Homo sapiens: one gene and its partners. The protein of the gene in region 3 purifies or fractionates together with the protein of the main gene of each other region. This does not show direct contact. Each region holds a gene or a part of one and is shown on either strand. Other genes may lie near its edges.

Region 1 (2,573 bases), on a different chromosome or scaffold from region 3:
TCTCAGGCTGGTCTGGAACTCCTGAGCTCAAGCAATCCGCCCGCCTCAGCCTCCCAATGTGCTAGGATTACGGGTGTAAGCCACTGCACCCAGCCTAATGGAAGTGTTTCTTCCACAAGGAAGGGTCTTCTGAGGTAAGATAATGAAAGAGCACCTCCACCCAGGTGTCCGAAGTGAAGGTGTTCATTTAGGACTTTCATTGGCTGTCTTGTTGCAAATCAGGCTTCCAGAAGGCATAAACTACTGGTTTCTTTCAGCGTCCTTCTACGGGAGCTTAGGACACCTAATTGGAGTTTGAGCCTAATAGAGCAAAAGTGAAATGTGTGTTCTGTGCATGAGCTAGCCTGAGGACATGTGGCTAGTGGCTAATGAGCGTGAGGCCACCCTTTCAGGGTCAGATAAACTTAATGAGCTACTAGAATCAATGAGTGAATGAATGAACGAATGAATGTGTTTTTTTGTTTTTGTTTTTGAGACGGAGTCTCAATCTGTCACCCAGGCTGGAGTGCAGTGGCACCATCTTGGCTCACTGCAAGCTCCGCCTCCCGGGTTTATGCCATTCTCCTGCCTCAGCCTCCCGAGGCAGCTGGGACTACAGGCGCCCGCCACCACACCCGGCTAATTTTTTGTATTTTTAGTAGAGACGGGGTTTCACCGTGTGAGCCAGGATGGTCTCGATCTCCTGACCTCATGATCTGCCTGCCTCCGTCTCCCAAAGTGCTGGGATTACAGGCATGAGCCACCGCACCCGGGTTTTTTGGGGTTTTTTTGCTTTTTCTTTTTCTTTTGAGATAGTGTCTTGCTCTGTCGCCCAGGCTGGAGTGCAGTGGCGCAATCTCGGCTCACTGCAACCTCTGCGTCCCGGGTTCAAGCGATTCTCCTGCCTCAGCTTCCTGAGTAGCTGGGATTACAGGTGTATGCCACCACGCCTGGTTAATTTTTTTTTTTTTTTAGAGATGGGGTCTCACTATGCTGCCCAGGCATGTCTGAGACTCCTGGGATCAAGTGATCCTCATCCTCTTGCCTCAGCTTCCCAAAATCATAGGATTACAGGCGTGAGCCACAATGCCTGGCCTGGACATATTTTTGAGTCAACAGCTGCAAGAGCTACTTAGAAATTTTACGGGGGTTGCTGTGCCCCTTGCTTTGTTCCTTCTGCTTACCCTGAACCCTCTCTCTCTCCACACCAGGTTCTTTTTTCGATCGGGGAAACAGACCTAGATCCAAGGCCACAAGTAAGGCTATGGCTCTGATTCTAGAAGACAACCTTCCAAGATGCCTGGCAAAACCACCTCCCTGTGCCACACAGACACACTAGGCCTGTGTATTTATTTCCCCTTCAAAGCAGACTGAGGAGGGAGGAGACGAGGTTCTCTTGGCATCACTTTCTCCCTGGCTGCAGAACTAGACACCCTTGAAGATTTGGCCTGGGCCAGTGAGACTGAAATCAAGAAAAACAGAAGGGATGTGCAGGGTGGGGGGGTCCACTTCCTGCTCCCATGTCAACCCCCAGGGCCTCCAGCGTGCAGACGCGTGTCCTACTCATCTGCTCCCACGGATGACCCTGGTCTTCAATGGTTAGCAGAAGGGAGAAAAGAAAGCAGGAAAATGTGCTATTGAGATTCCAGTGGTGACTTCACTGATATTTAGTGAATATTTGATTTAGCCAACATGCCTTTCTTTATGTGATTTTGTATTAAAGTAAAATGATTTTTATACTTTCTATAGCTTATCTAGAGTGGTCTCTTAGTTACGATGGTACACATGGTATATGTGTGTATATGTCATATATCTACATTTCATTGTATAATGAATCAATTGCATTCATTCAGTCTAAGCGATGCACGATTATCTGGTGTCACTATGAAGGGAAAGATTGCTGCAAACTAAAATGTTAAGAAGCTATCGATTTTAGGACTCATCCTGATTTCAGAGGTGTTAAGATGTGAACAAAATGCATTTAGGAATCAATGAAACAGAGAGCGGGTGTCTGCACTTCGCAAAGGAACTAATGAGGCTGCCGCAACCATTCCGTGAGCCTGTCTTCTTAGTAAATAACAGTGGCTTACTCAATGTGTTTCGCCTGCTCTGTGGATTATCTCATTTGTTCCTCATAACCTGGGGAGATGGGGACCGGTACCGGTGCACCAGTTTATAGATTTTTTTTTTTTTTTTTTTTGAGACGGAGTCTCTCGCTCTGTCGCACAGTCTGGAGTGCAGTGGCACGATCTCGGCTCACTACAAGCTCTGCTGCCTACGTTCACGCCATTCTCTTGCCTCAGCCTCCTGAGTAGCTGGGACTACAGGCACTTGCCACCACACTCGTCTAATTTTTTTGTATTTTTAGTAGAGACAGGGTTTCGCCGTGTTAGCCAGGATGGTCTCGATCTCCTGACCTCGTGATCCACCCGCCTCAGCCTCCCAAAGTGCTGGTGAGAGGTGACAGCGTGCTGGCAGTCCTCACAGCCCTCGCTCGCTCTCGGCGCCTCCTCTGCCTGGGCTCCCACTTTGGCGGCACTTGAGGAGCCCTTCAGCCCACCGCTGCACTGTGGGAGCCCCTTTCTGGGCTGGCC
Region 2 (3,500 bases), on a different chromosome or scaffold from region 3:
GCTGGGAATACAGGTGCCTGCTACCATGCCCAGCTAATGTTTGTATTTTTATTAGAGACAAGCTTTCACTGTGTTGGCCAGGCTGGTCTCAAACTCTTGGCCTCTGGTGATCCACCCACCTTGGCCTCCCAAAGTGCTAAGATTACAGGCGTGAGCCACCATGCCCAGCCCACAGTGGCTATGATTCTCTTGTACATTTGTACATTTTTGGAGGGCAGTTTGACAGTAAATTAAGGCGTGCACTCAATTTTTCAAATTTTACTTCTAGGAATTTATCCTAAGGAAATCATCAGACTAGTCAGATTTATAAATGAGAATATTAGTCATGCTGTTTATAATATTCAATAATTAAAAATCTAAGTTTTTATCAACAGATATACTATTAAATAAATTATAGTCCATTCAGCCATAAAATATAATGTTGATCAGTGGTTCCTAACTTTGGAGATCATTGAACCCTATAAGAACCTGAAGAAACTCCAAAATTGAAGGTCTTGGTATCTGGTTAGTATATATTGCTATCGGAAGATGTCCATACTATGGACAAAAAGCTGTTGTATGTATAATAATTTTTAAAAATTGTCATGTTGTCCAGGCGCAGTGGCTCACGCCTGTAATCCCAGCACTTTGGGAGACTGAGGCAGGCAGATCACCCGAGGTTAGGAATTCTAGATCAGCCTGGACAACATGGCGGAACCCCATCTCTACTAAGAATACAAAAATTAGCTGGGCATAGTGGTGCATGCCTGTAATCCCAGCTAGTCAGGAGGCTGAGACACGAGAATTGCTTGAACCTGGGAAGCAGCGGCTGCAGTGAGCCGAGATCCTGCCACTGTACTGCAGCCTGGGTGAGAGACAAGACTCTATCTCAAAAATAAGATAAATAAAATAAAATAAATAAAATAGTCATCCATAGAAAAAAGCCTGATTAATATATACCAGTACATTAATGATGATTATCTCTAAGTAGTCATCATTATCTTTTTAGTTTTTCTGTATTTTTGCAATGAGTGTGTATTATTTTTATAATAAGAAAAATTACATTTTTAAAAATAAAGGAGAATTTAGAAAACAACAGAAAAGTAATAGAAGGAAATAAGCTAGGGAAACTATTAGCCACCTCTGTGACATACAAATAATGGTTTTTACATGTAAAGGTATTTCCTAACTCCCAGTAGGAAAAAAAAAAAGGGGGCAACCTGTATAAATAGATAGTTCATCAAAGAAATGACACCAGTAGCCAATTAAAAGATAACGAAAACACCCAATTTCACTAGTAATCAAGTTAGTGAAAAATAAAATTTTTTTTTTTACCCCATCAAGTCAGTAGAGGTTTTAAAAATGTGCGGTGCTCACTGTTGATGAAAGTGTACGAAGATGGACATGCTAATACATTAGTTATTGGAAAGCAATTTGGCAATAATATCAGGAGCCTTAAATTAAGTTTTTTCTTTTTGCTATCGTACTTTGGTTTGTAGTCCAATCTAAGAAAATCACCAAAAATTGGCATCCTCTTAAAAACTTTCCATTTTAATAGCATTCTTGAGGTATAATTGACATGCAGTAAACTGCACATAATGTGTACAATTAATGAGAATCAAGATAGGAAACATATCTGCCACCCGCTGCCCCCACCCCCAGAGTTTTCCTTTGTAATCACGCCCTCCTGCCCCTTCCCTCACCCTCCCATCCTCAAGCAACCTCTGGTCTACGGTCTGTCACTAAGGATTAGTTTGCGGATTTTTAGAATTTTATATAAATATGGAATATAATGGAATATAAATGTGGAGAAAAGGACATTCAGGATGTACTTTTTTTTTTTGAGATTTATCCATGTTGTTGTGTGTCTCGTTCCTTTTTAGTGTTCACTCCTTGGTTTTCCTTTTTTTTTTTTTTCTTTTTTGGTTATCTAGACCTGCAGATGTTCACTCCCTTTTAGTGCTAAATAACATCCCATTGTACATCATCTGTTCACTTGTTGATGGACATTTACCAACATATCCTTTTAGGAAAAATTTGAGACCCCTAAATCTGCAGAAATAGAAGGGTTAAATTATGCTGTTGCTGCATAATGACAAAGGGCCATTAAAAATGATATTTTAGAACACTTAACAATACAGTTTTACTTATAATGTGTTTTATTGGGGGAAAACAGGATATAAAACTTTTTATTTAAAAGATATATATACCATACACATCAAAAAAAGAGACAGGAAAAAGTAGATTGGTTAGATTACTAAATGTTTTTATTTTCCTTATCATGTTTATCACTAGCAAGAATAAATAAATGCCATTTAAAAGAAAATAACTAAACTAAACATGCAGTTACCATACAACACAACAATTGACTTTTGAGCATTTTTCTTTGGGAAATGAAAACTTAGGTTAACAGAAAAACTTGTACACACATGTTCATAGCAGCTTTATTTGTAGTAGCCCCAAACTGGAATCAACTCAGATGTCCTTCAACAGATGGATGGTGAAACTATGGTATATCCATACTGTGGGCTATTTCTCAACAATAAAAAGAAGAAAATTATTGATACAGGTAACAACTTGGATGAATCTCCAGAGAGTGCTGAATGCAAAGGCCCATTCCAAAAGGTTATATGCTGTGCAATTTATATAACATTTGTATAGCATTCTTTTTTTTTTTTTTTTTTTTTTTTTTTTTGAGACAGAGTCTCGCTCTGTCACCCAGGCAGGAGTGCAGTGGTGCCATCTTGGCTCACTGCAACCTCTGCCTCCCGGATTCAAGTGATTCTCCTGCCTTGGCCTCCTGAGTAGCTGGGATTACAGGCGCACACCAGCACATCTGGCTAATTTTTGTATTTTTAGTAGAGGCGGGGTTCCGCCATGTTGGCCAGGCTGGTCTCAAACTCCTGACCTCAGGTGATCTACCTGCCTTGGCCTCCCAGAGTGTTGGGATTACAGGCATGAGCCACTGTGCCTGGCCTATAGTGCATTCTTGAAAAAAAAAAAAAAAATTGGCCAGGTGCAGTGGCTCACGCCTGTAATCCCAGCACTTTGGGAGGCCGAGGCAGGCGGATCACCTGAGATCAGGAGTTTGAGACCAGCCTGGCCAACATAGTGGAACCACGCCTCTACTAAAAATACAGAAATTAGCCAGATGTGGTGGTGTGCGCCTGTAATCCCACCTAGTTGGGAGGCTGAGGCAGGAGAATCACTTGAACCCCAGGGGGCGGAGGTTGCCGTGAGCCAAGATCGTGCCACTGCACTCCAGCCTGAGTGACAAGAGTGAAACTTCATCTTAAAAAAGAAAAAGAAAAAAAATGTTTTTAGAAATTCAGGTCAGATTAGTGGCTATCAGGAGCTAAGGACCGTGGAAAGAGGAGGGAGGTAAAAGGATCCTTGCAATGTTGGAGTTGTTGAGTATCTTAACATTGGAGGTGAATATATGAAAACCTACACAGGTGATAAAATTGTGTAGAACACACACATACAGTAAAACAAGAAATCTGAAGATCAGTGGATTGTAT
Region 3 (5,586 bases):
GTGGGTCTTGGGACATATTCCCAGGGGATTAGGGGCACTATAATAATTGATTTAAAATAGTGAATATGCACTTACCTGTCCTCCAGAAACACTGCCCAACCTCTGTCATTTAGTTCATTAATTATTCTAGTGGCAGAAACTACAGATCTACCTTATGGGGAAGATATTTTATTTTGGGCAAGAAGGTCTTCAGCCCCACAAGCCATGCCACATGCATCTGCCTATTAAGACAGGCGGTGCTATTAATCAGAATGGACCAAATTAAAAATCTTGAGATTACCTTTGCAGATGCGTCTTGCTTTGTAAAATCACAGTATTCCTGAAAAGCCATGCATAAATCAGTTTCTTTAATCCCTTACATTTATATAGTGCCTTATGGTTGCAGCAGACTGCAGAGATTGTTAGTTGCTTTTTTCCTAACAATGCTAGAGGAAAGGAGGGGCCACTACTCTCATTCTCATAGAACAGAAGAGAAACCCACAGCTAAGAAATGTTCTGCGGCGGAGCACAGTGGCTCATGCCTGTAATCACAGCACTTTGGAAGGCTGAGGTGGGAGGATCACTTGAGGCCAGTTCAGGGTCTCACACTGTTGACTAGCCTGGTTAACAAACCAAAACCCCAACTGTACAAAAAATTTTTAAATTAGCCAGGCGTGGTGGCACGTGCCTGTGGTCTCAGCGGCTCAGGAGGCTAAGCAAGGAAAATCACTTGGGCCCAGGAGTTCCAGGCTGCCGTGAGCTGTGATCGCACCACTGCACTCCAGCCTGCGCAACAGAGCAAGGCTGTCTCAAAATCAAAACAAAACAAAATGAAAGAAAAAGAAAGAAAGAAGGAAAGAAAGAAAGTAAATTCCGTGATGGTAAGTGATGGATCTGTGTTTCAAATAATATAGAGGGATCATATTTTACATATTCTCAGAATTCATATTATAAAGATCCCTACAGTGACTGCACAGTTAAGAATGCTCTCATAGATGTAAACTTCCAATCTACACTGTGGGCAACGCTAGATTTTTACAAATCAGGTTTGCTGTGTAACATATGCGTGTACTGTGCATTACTAAACCTAGTTCTAAATACAGCACAGCTGAAATTTTGTGGGTAACGTGATCATTCGGCAAATGTTGCCAGCCCCTATCATATTCAGAACCCTGTGTTCTGAGATGCTCAAGTTCAAGCTGAGGAATTTGCTAAACAAATCTCTGGCAAGGAATCAGCAGTGATTTTCTGTATCCTTAAATCCTTCCAAACAGAAATGGCAAAACATACGACCCGAGTCCATAATTCCTAAAGTTTCAATCTTCTCGCACTGTTTGAGTTTTAACTCGCTTATTCCCCCAAAGGAGTATGCCATTTACTTAATTTAAAAATTAAACAGCATAAAAACTTCTGAACTCTGAGTGAGACAGCGATCAGAGTTAAAAATAACTGATTTCGCGCGTTTCCGTGCAAAATGGGAGACAGACGTGACGGAGAGAGACCGAGCAGTGCCACGGCCCGGTAGAGGGTGCGGGGGCTTGCACCCGCTGGTGTTTGTGAGAGAGCGCTGGTGTAGACGCGAACGCAGCGCAGGCGGCCCGGCGGCGCGGCCTCAGGTCGGGGCCTTTCCAGCGTTCCAGCTACACCGAGCGCGCGGGGGCGAAAACATGTGCATGGTGTTTGGGGACTGTGCGCATGGGAGTGTTTTCACTGTCAACCAGGGTTCTTTTTCTTATTTTGAACCCATTTTCATGATGCACCGGAATGCTGAAGTTCAAAATTGCCTACGGAGAATTTTAAGACTAAAACCACACTAAGTTTCTTGTGTTAACTATAAATGCGGGTCAGAGTGAAAGCCGAGTAGGGAGGAGTGAAAAGGGGGAAAAGGGAAGAGATAAGAGGAAGAAAAGATGAAAGAGCCGGCGGAAGAGGGAGGGAAGCGGGGGCGGGCAGGCGAGCAGAGGCAGGGAAAGAGCGGCGCGGGTTGCGGGAAAGCTCCGCGCGCAGTACCCAACCGAGGCCCGGGCGCGCGGTCCTCCCGCCGGCAGGGGGCGCCCACCCGCCCGCCTCCGGCCCCTCGCGGCCAGCCGCCCCGCCCGCGCCTGCGCTTCCTGCCCCTCCTCGTCCGGGATGCTGCTGCCGCTACTGCGGAGTAGCTGCTTCCCTTCCTCCTCTCCCGGCGGCGGCGGCGGCAGCGGCGGAGGAGGAGGAGGAGGGGACCCGGGCGCAGAGAGCCGGCCGGCGGCGCAGTTGCAGCGCGGAGCCCACGGGCCGCCGGGGCCGCTCCAGCGGGCGGAAGCCGAGCCCGGGGCCGACCCCCCGCGCGCGGCGGAGGCCGAGGGGGCGCCGGGGCCCGGGGCGCGCAGCCGGGGGGCGGGCGGCGGCGGGCGGCGGGCCGAGCGGGAGCCGCATGCGTGTATGGATCCGGGCGCCGCGCTGCAGAGGCGGGCCGGGGGCGGCGGCGGTCTGGGCGCGGGCTCCCCGGCGCTGTCGGGCGGCCAGGGCCGCCGGAGGAAGCAGCCCCCCAGGCCGGCCGACTTCAAGTTGCAGGTCATCATTATCGGCTCCCGCGGCGTGGGCAAGACCAGCCTGATGGAGCGCTTCACCGACGACACCTTCTGCGAGGCCTGCAAGTCCACCGTGGGTAAGGGCGCCACGGCGACCCTGGGCCGGGCCTCCTGGCGCCCGGGCAGGTGCCCTTCGCCCCGTGGGCTTCGAGTCTCATCGAGCCTGGGAGTCTTTCGGGGATGGGCCTCTCGGTGAAACTAGGGGCGGGGGTCTCCTTGGAGCGCCCTGCATCCCAATCCCAAAGCCTGGCAGAGGTTTTCGTGCCGCCTCCGGGCAGACCTGCCCTTGGCCCCCGGCCCTGCCTCAGAGGTCCTGGCAGCCCCCGGGGCCTGTGGGGGCGGCTCTCCACGGAAACTTCGGCCCTTAGCATACTCGCCCAAGAAAAAGCTGGGTTCGAGTGGAGCGCAGGCAGGCAGGGGAGTGAACGCCTAAGGCCGCTCTCGCCCGGCCCGCCAAGGCCAGCGCGCGCCGTCTGCTGCGGGTGTGATCCCTGCGCAACCAGGGCAGTTTTCTTATTTTGAACCCATTTTCAAGAAATGAAGTTTAAAGTCACCTATGGAGAATGTTAAAACTAAAACTACAGTAAGTTTCTCGTGCTAGCCGTACGTACGGGGCAGAGGAGCTTCAGCTGTATTTATCCATGACCTCAAACAACCCGGTGACTGGCGGGCATGGGGTTGATTCCTCCAGTACCGCTGTTTTCGGTGAGGGACAGGAGTGAAGTAAGTACAGGAACGCTCCAGGGTCAAGGAGGAAAACAGCCGTGGATCTGAAATGGAAACTGCAGGGGAAATTTTTTTAATTAAGTCATGCTTAGAGGACTTGACATTGAGATTTCTCAGTTGGATGTGGGTAGCAGTTGTTTCTATGGAAAACCCCTTAAAAGATGTCCAAACTAGGAGAACCCCGTTCTTTAAAATAAAGGGCAGTCACTTCCGTGATAGGAAGTGAGAGATTTCCCCAGGGGCGGTCCAAGAAACTGAGTAGTCAGGAGATTTGATAGAATTAAAAGCATAATTTCATGTAATTCTATTTATTAATAGTGTTATAACCAGTGGTAGTTCCAAGGCTGTCAGTACGATTTTGAGATGACTTGATTTGAAATTGTCATGTAACAAAACAGTACTACATTTAAAGTGTCTTATTGGAAAGTGAAACCTCCAATTTTTGTACTGTCTTTCTTGGTTTGTTTTCAAGAACTTACTTCCCTTAATGCTTTTTTGGAATAGATCATTTTGGAAATATTTGTGATGTCTGTACCATATGTTTTTAAAATGTTGTCGTTGGAGACATTATATTAAAATGAGTAGCATAACTATACCTGTTTCAAATATCCAGTCTTGGATCATGCAGAGTACAGGGAGTTGTTAAACCATCAAATGAGGGTTAGGCTGTTATTTTAGTACCTGACATAAATAAAGTAGGGTTAAATTCCGTTTAGAATTGTCAATATTTTATGGCTCCGTACTTCAGTATATAAAAATGAGAGATAATAGAGTTGCACTGTGTGATGAAGAGAAATCAGGTACCCATAGGTGGGTAACTGAGGGCTTGAGTGGATGGAGGGTGAGATGGATGAGCAAAGGTGTGCTTTAGAATGCAGAAGAGGAGAGAGGAAGAAGGATTTTCTAAGCCTGGCAGCAGTGGAGCAGCCCCCCACCTCTGGGGAGGGTTCCTTAGGGGACTTGGGAATGGATGCTGCGAGACCTTGACCGCCATGCTAAGGAGAATGGACCCGATCCTATGGGCACCTGGAACCAAAAGACTCCTTAGTAAGGCATTGGCACGAAAACAGTTTGGCAGAGTTGCATAGGATGTTTGGGAATAAGGAAGAGCTGCGGAGGATGCTTGGGAATAAGGAAGAAACCAGGAGGCAAGGAGACCAAGCAGTTTGTTTCTGTGTCCCTTAACAAACATGCACTTACCCGAGCACATACTCCCTACTCTGAGTGTGGTTGAATTTCTGTCTTGCTCATTTTTGTTTGCTTCACATGTAGCCTATAATACTTAGAGTACTGGAGTACTTTAGTACTCAGTGCGTGCTTCTAACTGTGGGATGTTCAGAGAATGATCATGGCCCCTGGCCTGCTGCAGAGCGGGAAGACACTGTGAGAACGCCAGCCAGCTCCACTTCAGTTTCTGCTTCAGAGTTGCTTTTCCCCTCCACTCATCAGATCGTTTGTTGAGCACCTACTGTGTGTTGGGTGTTATGCTACCCAGTGGGGATTCAGTGGTAAACAGGACATCGACTCTGTCCAGAAGTGGATCGGAGCTTCTGGGAGCTGCGTGACCGCTTGTCAGGGCAGTGACAGATGTGTATGGGTATTTGGGAGCACAGTGAAAGCGCCTCCAGTCGAGGCTAGTGATGAGGCCTGGTCAGAGAAGGCTTCCTCGTCATTGGAATGTTTGAAGATAAGTTTGTTCCTCTAGTTCCTTTAGAAAAATGCAAATTAAATATGGTACTGGGTGTGGTGTAGAATTGTGGTTGCCTTACCTGAACGCTTACCATTTGAGCAGTTAGCTCCCGGGGTTCTTCCCAGGCTGGTTTTTCTAGTTTCATCTTCATGTAGTGCAGTGAATTCCATATAGAGCAAGAGTCTCTTCCACAGTAGGAGTTTCTCCCTACCCTGTCAGGGCTGCTCGCGACAGCCGTCTGGGAAAGACCGTGAGCCTCACAGCATGGCCCAGGGAAGAGTCCCTGAGTGTGCCTGGACCAAGATGGGTCACTAGAGTGGTAGTATTGTCTAATTCCTAGGCTAGGAGAGTGTTTCCATTAAGAGCCTTTTTATTTTTATTTATTTATTTATTTTTGAGACAGAGTCTTGCTCTGTCACCCAGGCTGGAGTGCAGTGGTACGATCATGGCTCACTGCAGCCTCGACCTGCCAGGCTCACACAATCTTCCTGCCGCAGCCTCCTGAGTAGCTGGGACTGCAGGTGCACACCACCAAGCCCTTTTTTGATTTTTAGTAGAGACAAAGTCTTGCTATGTTGTCCAGGCTGGTCTCAAACTCCTAGTCTCAAGCACTTGGCCTCCCAA

Evidence for each region.
Region 1: the proteins of RAB12 (region 3) and RILPL2 purify together in Homo sapiens (co-immunoprecipitation; one study listed by IntAct). This does not show direct contact.
Region 2: the proteins of RAB12 (region 3) and SMARCAL1 fractionate together in Homo sapiens (co-fractionation; one large-scale study listed by BioGRID). This does not show direct contact.

Annotation. Positions count from the first base shown.
Region 1 is NC_000012.12:123,414,539-123,417,111, reverse strand, and holds the end of RILPL2 (RILP-like protein 2), read left to right. Parts: intron 1-1,190; coding exon 1,191-1,221; 3' UTR 1,222-2,073; downstream 2,074-2,573. UniProt on the Homo sapiens protein: Involved in cell shape and neuronal morphogenesis, positively regulating the establishment and maintenance of dendritic spines. Plays a role in cellular protein transport, including protein transport away from primary cilia.
Region 2 is NC_000002.12:216,471,484-216,474,983, forward strand, and holds part of SMARCAL1 (SWI/SNF-related matrix-associated actin-dependent regulator of chromatin subfamily A-like protein 1), read left to right. Parts: intron 1-3,500. UniProt on the Homo sapiens protein: ATP-dependent annealing helicase that binds selectively to fork DNA relative to ssDNA or dsDNA and catalyzes the rewinding of the stably unwound DNA. Rewinds single-stranded DNA bubbles that are stably bound by replication protein A (RPA).
Region 3 is NC_000018.10:8,607,331-8,612,916, forward strand, and holds the start of RAB12 (ras-related protein Rab-12), read left to right. Parts: upstream 1-2,106; 5' UTR 2,107-2,109; coding exon 2,110-2,623; intron 2,624-5,586. UniProt on the Homo sapiens protein: The small GTPases Rab are key regulators of intracellular membrane trafficking, from the formation of transport vesicles to their fusion with membranes.